Homo sapiens: one gene and its partners. The protein of the gene in region 1 purifies or fractionates together with the protein of each later gene. This does not show direct contact. Each region holds a gene or a part of one and is shown in the gene's direction. Other genes may lie near its edges. The genes, in order: SHH, DERL1 and EDEM2.

What was found.
Region 2: the proteins of SHH (region 1) and DERL1 purify together in Homo sapiens (affinity purification with western blotting, with the first as the bait; one study listed by BioGRID). This does not show direct contact.
Region 3: the proteins of SHH (region 1) and EDEM2 purify together in Homo sapiens (affinity purification with western blotting, with the first as the bait; one study listed by BioGRID). This does not show direct contact.

What each region holds. Positions count from the first base shown.
Region 1 is NC_000007.14:155,809,557-155,813,975, reverse strand, and holds the start of SHH (sonic hedgehog protein isoform 1 preproprotein), read left to right. Parts: upstream 1-1,512; 5' UTR 1,513-1,853; coding exon 1,854-2,153; intron 2,154-4,419.
Region 2 is NC_000008.11:123,028,687-123,032,333, reverse strand, and holds part of DERL1 (derlin-1), read left to right. Parts: intron 1-1,577; exon of another isoform or gene 1,578-1,617; coding exon 1,618-1,729; exon of another isoform or gene 1,730-2,104; intron 2,105-3,647. UniProt on the Homo sapiens protein: Functional component of endoplasmic reticulum-associated degradation (ERAD) for misfolded lumenal proteins. Forms homotetramers which encircle a large channel traversing the endoplasmic reticulum (ER) membrane.
Region 3 is NC_000020.11:35,119,763-35,123,409, reverse strand, and holds part of EDEM2 (ER degradation-enhancing alpha-mannosidase-like protein 2 isoform 1 precursor), read left to right. Parts: intron 1-3,647. UniProt on the Homo sapiens protein: Involved in the endoplasmic reticulum-associated degradation (ERAD) pathway that targets misfolded glycoproteins for degradation in an N-glycan-dependent manner.

The sequences.
Region 1 (4,419 bases):
GCCCAAGACAGATGTGTCCTAAGATGCTCCTCTCCTTCTCTCCCCCACCACACACACAAAAAGTTGATCTGCAAAGGGAACTTCTGGAAACTTCCATCGTTTGAGGGCTGAGCTTCACAGGGGTCCTCTCCCCCTCCACTCCAAGGGCCCGGGGTCAAGGGAGAGTGTTTAACTTCACAGGGCCACATTTGCAGCATCTGATGACTCCTCAGGGTCAGGATTTCCCCTCCACGTAAATAACCCTCACTCTCTAATCCTATGCTAGAGGAATCATTGCACATGAGTGGGATGGCGATTGAGAAGGGGAAGGGCATGATCTGTTTTTTTTTTTTTAAAAAAAAAAAGAAAAGCAGGGTTGAGAGGGAGCTTCAAATTTTATTTTCCTGGTTTACTTAGGACTTTTGAGTTTTTTTCCTTTTTCTGCAAAAAGTGAGGTGATTATAGACTCAAAGATTGCCACCTCCTGGGCACTGTGCCCTCTTTCTAGGAAGCCCCTCGTTAACCAGAACACTGTTCCCCCAGGGCCCCTGACCCCTTGGGCTGCAGCCCCTAGGACTGGTGGCTCCTGTGCCTGAAGACTGCTGGCCTGCTGAGCCCCCACACAAGGCCAGCTTTGCAAGGAGCCTGAATTCCACATTCAGCTCACCCCTGGCTCTGCACTTTGCTCTGATCGATCGTGGGGGTTGTGTGAGCACAGCTTCGCCCACTCGCCTGCCCCCCCCCCAACACCCTGCAATGGCCTCCACACACCCAGCGCACACACTGGCCCCCACTCTCTCCCCTGTGCTGGGGTGCAGCCCCCAGACCTGCTTTGCCCATCCACCCTGACGCCCGCAGTTCACTCTGTAACTGCCCTTGAGCACGCCTCCATCCCATTTGCAGAGCTCTACAAAAAAAAAAATGTATTAATTGAAGCACAATAAAAGAGCAGTATTTTTACATTTTTCTAAGGCACTTAAAGCATTTCAAATACCAGTGCTTTAAGTTATGGTCACTCATAATTATCCTCGGTCCACAGAGGCTGAGTCTTCAGGAGGGGCTCAGTCCTCTTTCTTCAAAATGCAGGGAGAGCCAGCCTGCACTATAAAGTCCCTGGGGAAGAAAAATTAAATAACAGCTGGGCAGCTGTGCCCCTCAAATGTGTGAGCGACTCTGTGCTTGATGACTGAAGCTTGCGGGGGTTTAAACTGTCCTTTAAAAACTTAAGTTGGTTTTAACTGAAGCACCTACCATTCCAGGGAAAGTCAGGGGGAAACGCAAGGATGTACACAAAGCCGGGAGTAACTGCTGTTACCACAAGACATGCGCTCCTCCCTCCCGCCCACCTTTATCTTAGGAAAGATTTTTTTTTTTTTAACTCGAATCCTTCAGGTGAAAATAAAGCAACAGCAGCAACAGAAAAAAAAAACGTAGTCTTCTTCAGGGTTAACATCAGAAGACAAGCTTGTGCGGCTTTGGCCAATCAGATGCGCCCCTGGCAGCTATAATATAGTGCTAAAGGCAGCCTCTCTCACAAGCTCTCCAGGCTTGCTACCATTTAAAATCAGACTCTTTTTGTCTTTTGATTGCTGTCTCGCGACCCAACTCCGATGTGTTCCGTTATCAGCGGCCGGCAGCCTGCCATTCCAGCCCCTGTCTGGGTGGGGAGCGGTGGAGAGTCCCCCGCAGCCGCGGCGGGCAAGGTTATATAGGAAGAGAAAGAGCGAGGCAGCCAGCGAGGGAGAGAGCGAGCGGGCGAGCCGGAGCGAGGAAGGGAAAGCGCAAGAGAGAGCGCACACGCACACACCCGCCGCGCGCACTCGCGCACGGACCCGCACGGGGACAGCTCGGAAGTCATCAGTTCCATGGGCGAGATGCTGCTGCTGGCGAGATGTCTGCTGCTAGTCCTCGTCTCCTCGCTGCTGGTATGCTCGGGACTGGCGTGCGGACCGGGCAGGGGGTTCGGGAAGAGGAGGCACCCCAAAAAGCTGACCCCTTTAGCCTACAAGCAGTTTATCCCCAATGTGGCCGAGAAGACCCTAGGCGCCAGCGGAAGGTATGAAGGGAAGATCTCCAGAAACTCCGAGCGATTTAAGGAACTCACCCCCAATTACAACCCCGACATCATATTTAAGGATGAAGAAAACACCGGAGCGGACAGGCTGATGACTCAGGTAGGAACCCAGCGCCGGGGCGTGGAATGTGTGGCTTTCCAGGGGGTTACGAGAAGCCGAACACTTCCAGACTTAACTCTGTTTGCTCTTCGGGCAGATAGGAAGGTGATTTCACCCGCTCCTTCCCCACCCACCTGCCCGCCCCCCATCTCTTCCTCTTCCTGGAGGAGAATGGAGGTCAAGGGTCCAGCTGGAGAAGTTTAGGGTGTGGTGGGGGTGAGGACGGTAACAGACGTGGTTCATTATGGCCCTGATTTGATGAGTCTTGCTACAATGGCCTTCCCCATCCTACCTCTGCCCTGGCTTGTAACTTGGGGAGACCTTCACTTTGGGGGCGTCGGCCCTTTCCAAGTCAGGAGTGGAAATGGAAGGAGAGGCTGGGAATCCCCCTCCCACAAACATGAAGTGGTCTCCTGGTACTGTACGAACGAACGAACGTAGCCTTGGGCATTGGAGCTCAGAGCCCCCACGTTTCCCGTTGCCTCTGTGGTTTTCTTTCCCACCACTACCCCCACCCTGCACCTCCCCACCAAAGAATTCTCAACTGGAAAAGCCAGGAGGCGGTTCTGACAAAAGGCAGGGGCTCCAGGGGAGACTCCGCCCGTCCCTGGGTGGCTGGCTGTATCGCAGAGCTGGCTTTGCGATTGCGTGTCCGCAATTGTGCCCATCAGAGTGTGAATGTATTGATATTTCTTTAAGGATGCTCTTTCGTTCTTCCAAGCCCGAGGTACCTTAGGGGAGGGACTTAGAACTTATTGGCATTGCATCACTTTAGTTTTCAACCTGCTTGCATAAGAATTAAGAGCGAATAAATATTAGTGTGGGGGGAGGGGAAGCTAAGCAAAATATGAATTCCTCTCTCTCTCCCCACCTCCTTTGAGATTTCTGAGCTGCCAATCTCCCAGCCAATTCTAGACTTTCTGAAACTCCATGCACGTATAACTGAAGCCAGAAATGGGTTTCCTTGCAAATATAGGTCAACATCCTTTTTATTGCCCTATTAAAATATTCAAGTCCTACCTTTAGGGCTAGGTGCGTACAGCGGCTGATGGAGTGGCGCTGGTGGGGCGCAAGTGCAGGGGGAGGGTACTGACGGCAGAGAGAGAGGAGCTACCTCCGTGCCGCCCTGCTTCCCGACCCGATTCCCAGGCTTGCTTGAGGCCGAGAAAGGCGAGGGGCAGGCAAGGTAGCCTGCTCCAGCTGTCGGAAGGGAGAGGAATGGGAAATGGTCCTGATTTCCTTGCTCTCCCTCATCTGCTCCCGACCACCTTAAATCTGGACCGCGAGTGTGGACGCGCGCGCCAGTGCCAGACAGCAGCGCGATCCACAATTAACTCTGCACGGGCCATGGGGTGCCCGTTGCGTGCAGCTGGCTGGAGGGAGTTCTCCGGCTAGCCCGAGGCGCCCATCCTCTCGTCACCCTCACTCCCCGCGGAGGAGGGGCCTTGCCAGGGTCCCTCGGAACCCGAGAGGAGGGAGGCACTGCGGAGAGAGCGGCGGGGGCGTGGATACCCGAGGTCCCAGAGCCAGAGTGGGTCAGCTTCTGCCCTGCTCTGCGGGAGGCCAATACCGCAGAAGGGGTCCTGGGCTCGCACACCTTCCCAGGGCTTGGGCCTTGCAGCCCTGCTGCAAAGCTGCAAGCGCACAGAGCCGCGCAGCGAGGCAGACGCCTGCAGCCCCACTTACTCCCGGGTTATCGATCCCCCGCGGCTAGGGTTTCAGTGCGCGAGGGGCTGGGCTGGAGCCGCCGGGCTCTGCTGCTCCACGCGCGGGAGCGCAGGCACCGCAGGAGCTAACAGCAGCGCCGGGCTCGCTGTAGTGTCCCCGGCGGCGGGGGCGCGGAGATGGGGGCGCCCGCGCAGGGGCCGGGGCGCATCGCGGGCTCCGCCGGCCTGCCCTGGGACGCGCCCCCATCCCCAGTCCGCCGCCTGCCTGGCCTCTAGGCCTCCGCGTCCCAGCCGGAGCCCCCAGCCCGGGGGCCTCCCCCCGACCCCCGTCCGCCCTGCCGGGGGACGCAGGGCCCAGCGGCCCCGCGCCCGGCCACTCTCGCCGCCGCGCGCACAGGCAGCATTTGAACTTCTGACCTTCTGTCAACTTCCCTCAGACGAACGAAACGAAAACAAATACTTTTTTCCTTGGGCAGTGGCTATTCCCGTTCCCAACACAAAAGGAGGGGGAAGGACGGCCCAAGTGGGGGTTGGGTGAGGAGAGCCAGGCCGGGATTATCAGGCAGACCCCACAAAGGTCCCCTAAAACCGAGGGGGGT
Region 2 (3,647 bases), on another chromosome or scaffold:
AGGAGACCCTGTATCTACAAAAAATATAAAAATTAGCCAGGTGTGGTGGTGCATGCTGGTAGTCCCAGCTACTTGGGAGGCTGAGGTGGGAGAATCACCTGAGTCCAGGAGGTGGAGGTTGTAGTGAGCTAGGATCATGCCACTGCACTCCAGCCTGGGCATCAGAGCAAGATCCTATCTCGGGGGGGAAAAAAAAAATGTAAATCCAGAAAAACAAATGAATAAAGGAAATGCTCAGGTTTTTAAAACGTGAAAAGGTGCTTGACTTCTCATAATGCAAATAAAAATTAGTTTTCAGATTGGTGAATATATAATACATGAAATGGTGAGAGTATGGAGAGAAGACAGGATTCATCTACTTTTTAGGAGGAAGTATAAATTGAGCAAACATTTTTGTAGGCATTTGGCAGTATCTACCAAAATAAATGGTTATGTCTGTTGCTCTAGCAGATTTATTGACAGGAACTTATTCTGTATATGCACATATAAAGAGGATATACAAGAATATTCATTGTGGCATTGTAACAGTTTAAACAAAAGTTTAGACATTCACATACAAGGAATACTATGAAGCCAATTAAAATATTTTGTAGGGAATGAACCAAGGTATAAAACAGTGCCGTATAGAGTAGGATAAAGAAGAATGAGTAATAGTAACATGTATTTCTTAGAGGAAATACAAGACACTGATCAGCTGTTGTTGGGGAACTGGGAGACTGGAGGTTGGGAATGAGGCTTACTTGTTACTTTATTATTTAATTTATTTTAATTAAATTAAATTTAATTTTTTGAGACGGAGTTTCGCTCGTCACCCAGGCTGGAGTGTAGTGGCGCGATCTTGGCTTACTGCAACCTCCGCCTCCTGGGTTCAAGCGATTCTCCTGCCTCAGCCTCCCGAGTAGCTGAGATTACAGGCCCCCGCCACCTCACCTGGCTAATTTTTGTAATTTTATTGGAGACAGGGTTTCACCATGTTGGCCTGGCTGGTCTTGAACTTTTGACCTCAGGTGATCTGCCTGCCTCAGCTTCCTAAAGTGCTGGGATTACAGGCATGAGCCACCGAACCTGGCCTGCTTGTTACTTTAGACCCTTCTTATGTTTTGTTTGTTTTTTCAGGGAAATGTTTTTAAAGAAAAAGTGCCCCTATTGCCTATTTAGTGCATTGGTTTGAATAAAAAATTGTTGTTTTACTTCTGCCTTTGAATGTGGCATTTTTGGACAAGGTTTGTCATTCCAGAATATTCTTTCCCTAAATAGAGGCATTACTGTACTGTTGGAAATTAAGCCTTTGTAATTCATTTTTTGATGTAGGCTTAATTGTATGCCTGATCTCAGCAAAGACTAACCATATACTCATATAGTATTGATTTTGTTTCAACTTGTTTAGAAATATTTGTTGCTTATTTTATGATGTCGTTTTATTCCATTGATTTGCAAAGTGATGTGATTGTATTTGGTGTGAACACTTTTCTTCAGTTGTTTTCTTGAGTTGTGTTGGTAGGATCACTTTCACACCTCTCATTGAGGAGGATGCTTTGTTAATTTTGTTTAGTTAGAAGGGAAAGAAATAACCAGGCTTACAGAAACTAACAGCTGTGTTTATTTTGATCTGGACAGATTTGGAGGCCAATCACTGCCACCTTTTATTTCCCTGTGGGTCCAGGAACTGGATTTCTTTATTTGGTCAATTTATATTTCTTATATCAGTATTCTACGCGACTTGAAACAGGTATGTTACCCATAGTTGTTTTAAGCATTGTTTCTTTCTCATTTACTAATCCATGTGTTTACTTTGGAGGAATTTGGAGGGCAGTTAGCATTACAAAAAGAAACTGCATAAAGATAGTAAATGCTTAGTGACTGTGCCAGGACTGCACCAGGCACTTAGCTTACTCAATTTTTAATCCTCACAACATCCTGAGGTATAAGTAGCAGTGTTACCATTTTATAGATGCAAAAAGTAGCAGATCAGAGGTTGACATGGCTTGTCCATCTCCTTAGTGGCTGAGCTGTGTGCCTTTCATTTATTTTGAGGGTCTCACTCATTTCTTTTGCAGCAGTCCTTGTCCTTCAGTGCAGAATTGGGCTGGAGTATATATGTCTCCTAGATTGGGGTTGAAAAACATCAATTTATGTAATTAAAAGCCTAGATTTATTCTCTAATTGAAAAACTCAACTCTAAAATACAGTATATAGCCAAGATTTAATAATATATGGTAGTTTATCAGGTATGAGTACCAATGTAATATTTTATTTTATTTATTTATTTATTTTTTGAGACAATCTTGCTCCGTTGCCCAGGCTGGAGTGCAGTGGTGCCATCTCAGTTCACTGTAGCCTCTGCCTCTCGGGTTCAAGCAATTCTCATGCCTCAGCCTCCTGAGTAGCTGAGATTACAGACACCTGCCACCATACCCGGCTAATTTTTATATTTTTAGTAGAGATGGGGTTTTACCCTGTTGGCCAGGCTGGTCTCAAACTCCTGACCTCAAGTGATCTGTCTGCCTCAGCCTCCCAAAGTGCTGGGATTACAGGTGTGAGTCAACGTGCCCAGCCAACCTATGTAATATTATGGATAAGTTCGAAAAATCTTTTCGTAAAAGTGTCTTACTGAATTGTCATTTATTTCCTACAATACCTTATATGCTGTCTGAGTCACTTATACTAAAGAAACAATACATCAATACACTGTGTTACAATATGGATATAATTTTGTTAAATTTAAATGACTTTGAAAAGGCTGACTGACTTCAGAGACTTTATAAACTTGCTGGCTGTTACCTCAGGATAGAGAACTCTGAACTACCCTTAAGTGTATGTAAGTCAGTGCTCATATGGTTGAGAATTGCGAATCAGTCTCATCACTGCAGGGAAATAGTAGGATGGGTATTTGATGTCAAGTAACATTTTTCCTTAAATTGGCATTTGCTTTTAGGTTCTTTTTAAAAAGAAAGAAATTGTATTAATACAAAGTGTAAGGTCATAGACTATTATATTACTATTGGGAGGAACCTAGTTTATTTCCTGAGTTTTACCAAAAGATGAATAGGAGATTCAAGGAAGTAAAGTAACTTGGCAGAAATGAAACTGACAACTAGGCCTCTCACCACCATATTAGGGGTTTGATCTTTAAATCTACCAGAATATGTGATTTTTATTCTCCTTTGTTCCAGTTGGACCCATAATGATACTGAGTGCTTAGCAGTCTGCCTTTCTGGTATAACTTAATTGAGCATTAATTTGTTAGAGTAATTTTTTTTTTTTTTGAGACAGGGTCTTGCTCTGTCACCCAGACTGGAGTATAGTGGCACAGTCATGGCTCCCTGCAGCCTTGACTGCCGGGGTTCAAGTGATCTTCCCACCTTAGCCTCCCTAGTAGCTACAAGGATGGGTGTTAAACCGCCACACCTGGCTGACTTTTGTATTTTTTGTAGAGATGGGGTTTCACCATGTTGCCCAGCCTGGTCTTGAACTCCTGGGCTCAAGAGATTTGCCCACCTTGACCTCCCAAAGTGCTGGGATTACAGGCGTGAGCCACTGTGCCCAGCTGGAGTAATTATTTTATATTGATAGTAAACGTTATATCAATAGTAAAATAGATTAAGTGTGGATCATTTATGATCAGTTATTTAAAATTTTATTCTGGA
Region 3 (3,647 bases), on another chromosome or scaffold:
TGTTGGTCAGGCTGGTCTTGAACTCCCAGCCTCAGGTGATCCGCCCACCTTGGCCTCCCAAAGTGCTGGGATTACAGATGTGAGCCACTGCGACTGGCCCCATATGCTCTTTCAAATCAGGAAATGAGTGAGAAGGAAAAGGCCAAGGTTGACTCCTTTTGAGCTCCTGCCATCAGGATTTCAGAAGTGTAGGCAAGCTTCCTAAGTCCATGGGTCAGATAAATTATGCTTACGTGTATGGAATGTTAGAACTTTGGGGCGGACCTTAGGAATTACCTAGTCTCTTCCACCTCCCCATTTGCAGCTCAGAATCAAGCAAAGGACTATATTTGAGACACTCTCATAGGTTCCTTTCTAGCCCTAATGTCATTTGATTCACTTCAGGGAAGCTGAAAATTGTGAGGAGGGAAAGAAAAAGAGGGACAAAGGAAGGAAGCTTAGTCAGCACACATAGTCATCCCCCACCCCAAAACAGGCTATGAGCCCATTGTCTTAGACACTTCCCACTTTCCCACCTGAATTGCCTTTTAGCCATGGGACAGGCCTTCTGGTTATCCTGCCTTCCTCTACCCCATTTCCTTCCTCTTCTAACTCAAGTGATTATCGTAGGAGGTGTAGAGGGGACCAGGAGAGGGAATAAAGAGCAAATTCATCAACTTTTGACTCCTTAGAGGCCACTGTTATTGATGTTTCTCATGCATTTGTTCTCATGGCATGTTTTTAAAACAGGAAACTTGGTTGGGCATGGTGGCTCACGCCTGTAATCCCAGCACTTTGGGAGGCCAAGGCAGGTGGATCACCTGAAGTCAGGAGTTTGAGACCAGCCTGGCCAACATGGTGAAACCCCATCTCTACTAAAAATACAAAATTAGCTGGGCATGGTGGCGTGCACCTGTAATCTCAGCTACTGGGGAGGCTGAGACAGTAGAATCGCTTGAACCCGGGAGGTAGAAGTTGCAGTGAGCTGAGATCACGCCATTGCACTCCAGCCTGGGCAAAAAAGAGCAAAACTCCATCTCAAAAAAATAAATAAGTAAATTTTAAAAATAAGAAGCTCTGAGAAGGTATCGTATCTGGTGTTACCAACAGGTAAAGATTAGGGTTTGGAACTAAATGTAAGACATAGGCTTGCACAATCTTAGGGTTAGAGGGAACCTGAGAGGTGTTCTAATTGGAATTTTCCTAATATGGCCCTGTCAAGTGGTTATCTAGTTTTTGCTTAGTTACCACGAGTGACAAGGAGCTTGCTACTTAACAGAGGCAACCTGTTCCATTTGGGACAGGCTGGCAGGAAGGCATTCATGGAAAGTAAGACACTACTGGCCAGATGCAGTGGCTTATGCCTGTAATCCCAGCACTCTGGAAGCCTGAGGCAGGAGGATCATTTAAGCCCAGGGGTTCAAGATCAGCCTGGGCAACATAGCAAGACCTTGTCTCTATAAGAAATATAAATAAATTAGCCAAGAGTGGTGTTGCATGCCTGTAGTCCCATCCCAGCTACCTGGGAGGATCACTTGAGCCCAGGTGGTCGTAGCTGCAGTGAGCCATGATGGCGCCACTGCAATCCAGCCTGGGCAATGGAGTGAGACCCTGTCTCCAAAAAAAAAAAACATAAGGCACCGCTGTCAGGAATCCAGGAGTGCGTTAATCCAGTCATCCCTCCTACCCCAAAACAATGGCAAATAGGAGATAAGGACTACTCTTTCACTAAATTGGCCAGAGCCCTGTACTTTCGTATATGTCTCTCTGATCAGCAGTGTTGGAGCACAGAGCCTAGCCTAAAGGCCTCTGCAGGCTTTTACCTTCCTCTAAGTCCAAATCTGAACTTTGGGCTGTCTCCTTCCTCTAGAGCAGGGATTCCCCAACCCCCAGGCCGTGGACCGGTACAAGTCCATGGCCTGTTAGAAACCAGGCCACACAGCAGGAGGTGAGCTGCGTGTGAGCAAGCAAAGCTTCATCTATATTTATAGCTGCTCCTCATCGCTCACATTGCTGCCTGAGCTCCGCCTCTTGTCTTATCCGTGGTGGCATTAGACGTTCATAGGAGCACAAACCCTATTGTGAACTGCATATGTGAGGGATCTAGGTTGTGTGCTCCTTAGGAGAAGCTGATGCCTGATGATCTGTCACTGTCATCCATCAACCCCAGATAGGGCTGTCTAGTTGCAGGAAAACAAACTCAGGGCTCCCACTGACTCTACATTATGGTGGATTGTATAATTATTTCATTATATATTACAATGTAATAATAATATAAATAAAGTGCACAATAAATGTAATGCACATGAATTATCCCAAAACCATCTCCTACAAGCCCAGTTCATGGAAAAATTGTCTTCCATGAAACTGGTCCCTGGTGCCAAAACGGTTGGGGACCACTGCTCGACAGAGTTGGTCAGATGCACAGGAAAGTAAAGCAATAACTAACATGCTTAGGAGGCCCACATGTGAGGAGAGAAGCGTGATGGCTGGTCATGAGGGCACTGGCCCACCAGCTGCTAGAAGCAGAAGAGGGCTGGGTGTGGTGGCTCACGCCTGTAATCCCAGCACTTTGGGAGGCCAAGGCGGTGGATCAACTGAGGTCAGGAGTTCGAGACCAGCCTGACCAATATGGCGAAACCCTGTCTCTACTAAAAATACAAAAATTAGCCGGGCACGGTGGCATGTGCCTGTAGTCCCAGCTACTCAGGAGGCTGAGACAGGAGAATTGCTTGAACCTGGGAGGCAGAGGTTGCAGTGAGCCAAGATCATGCCATTGCACTCTAGCCTGGGTAACACAGCAAAACTCCCTCTCAAAAAAAAAAAAAAAAAAAAAAGAAGAAGCCGAAAAAAGAAGCAGAAGAGGAGGCCTCCCATGAGGGCACTGTCTTTTCTGCCTTTGAACACACAGAATGTGTTCATCTAGTAATGAATGTACCCTAGTCTGTGCCTTAGAATATGAGCAATTAGATTAGCAATTGTCTAGAGGCCTGTGAGGAGAGGGGAGGAGGAAGTAAGAGAGAACTGGGGAGATAGGCAGAGACCTTTTCTCTAAAATAAGAACTAGAGGCTGGGTGCAGTGACTCACGCCTGTTATCTCAACACTTCAGGAAGCCAAGACTGGCGGATGACTTGAGGTCAGGAGTTTGAGACCAGCCTGGCCAACATGGCGAAACCCTGTCTCCACTAAAAATACAAAAATTAGTCAGGGCTGGTGGCGCATGCCTGTAATTCCAGCTACTTGGGAGGTTGAGGCATGAGAATCCCTTGAACCCAGGAGGCAGAGTTGCAGTGAGCGGAGATCGCACCATGGCACTCCAGCCTGGGTGACAGAGTGAGACTCTGTCACAAAAAAGTAATTAACGGAATAAAATAAGAACCAGAGTTTGCAGCAATAAGCCAAAAGGGACAGAAGCACTGATCAAGCCCAGGAGGAAACAGGACAGGAGAAGGTCAGGGGGAGATGATGGTATAGAAAGGAGACAGGGGTTCTTCTGTCTCTTAGAAAAGATGGATGAAGTAGAAAAACATACTGAGCTGAGGCCACCCTTGAAGTCAACTCTACAACAGTTCTTCAGGTATTTGAAAGCAATAAACACATTTTTTTTGGATTTCCTTATCTCTAGAATAAATATTCTCATCTGGACCCACTCCTGTTGGCTAATATT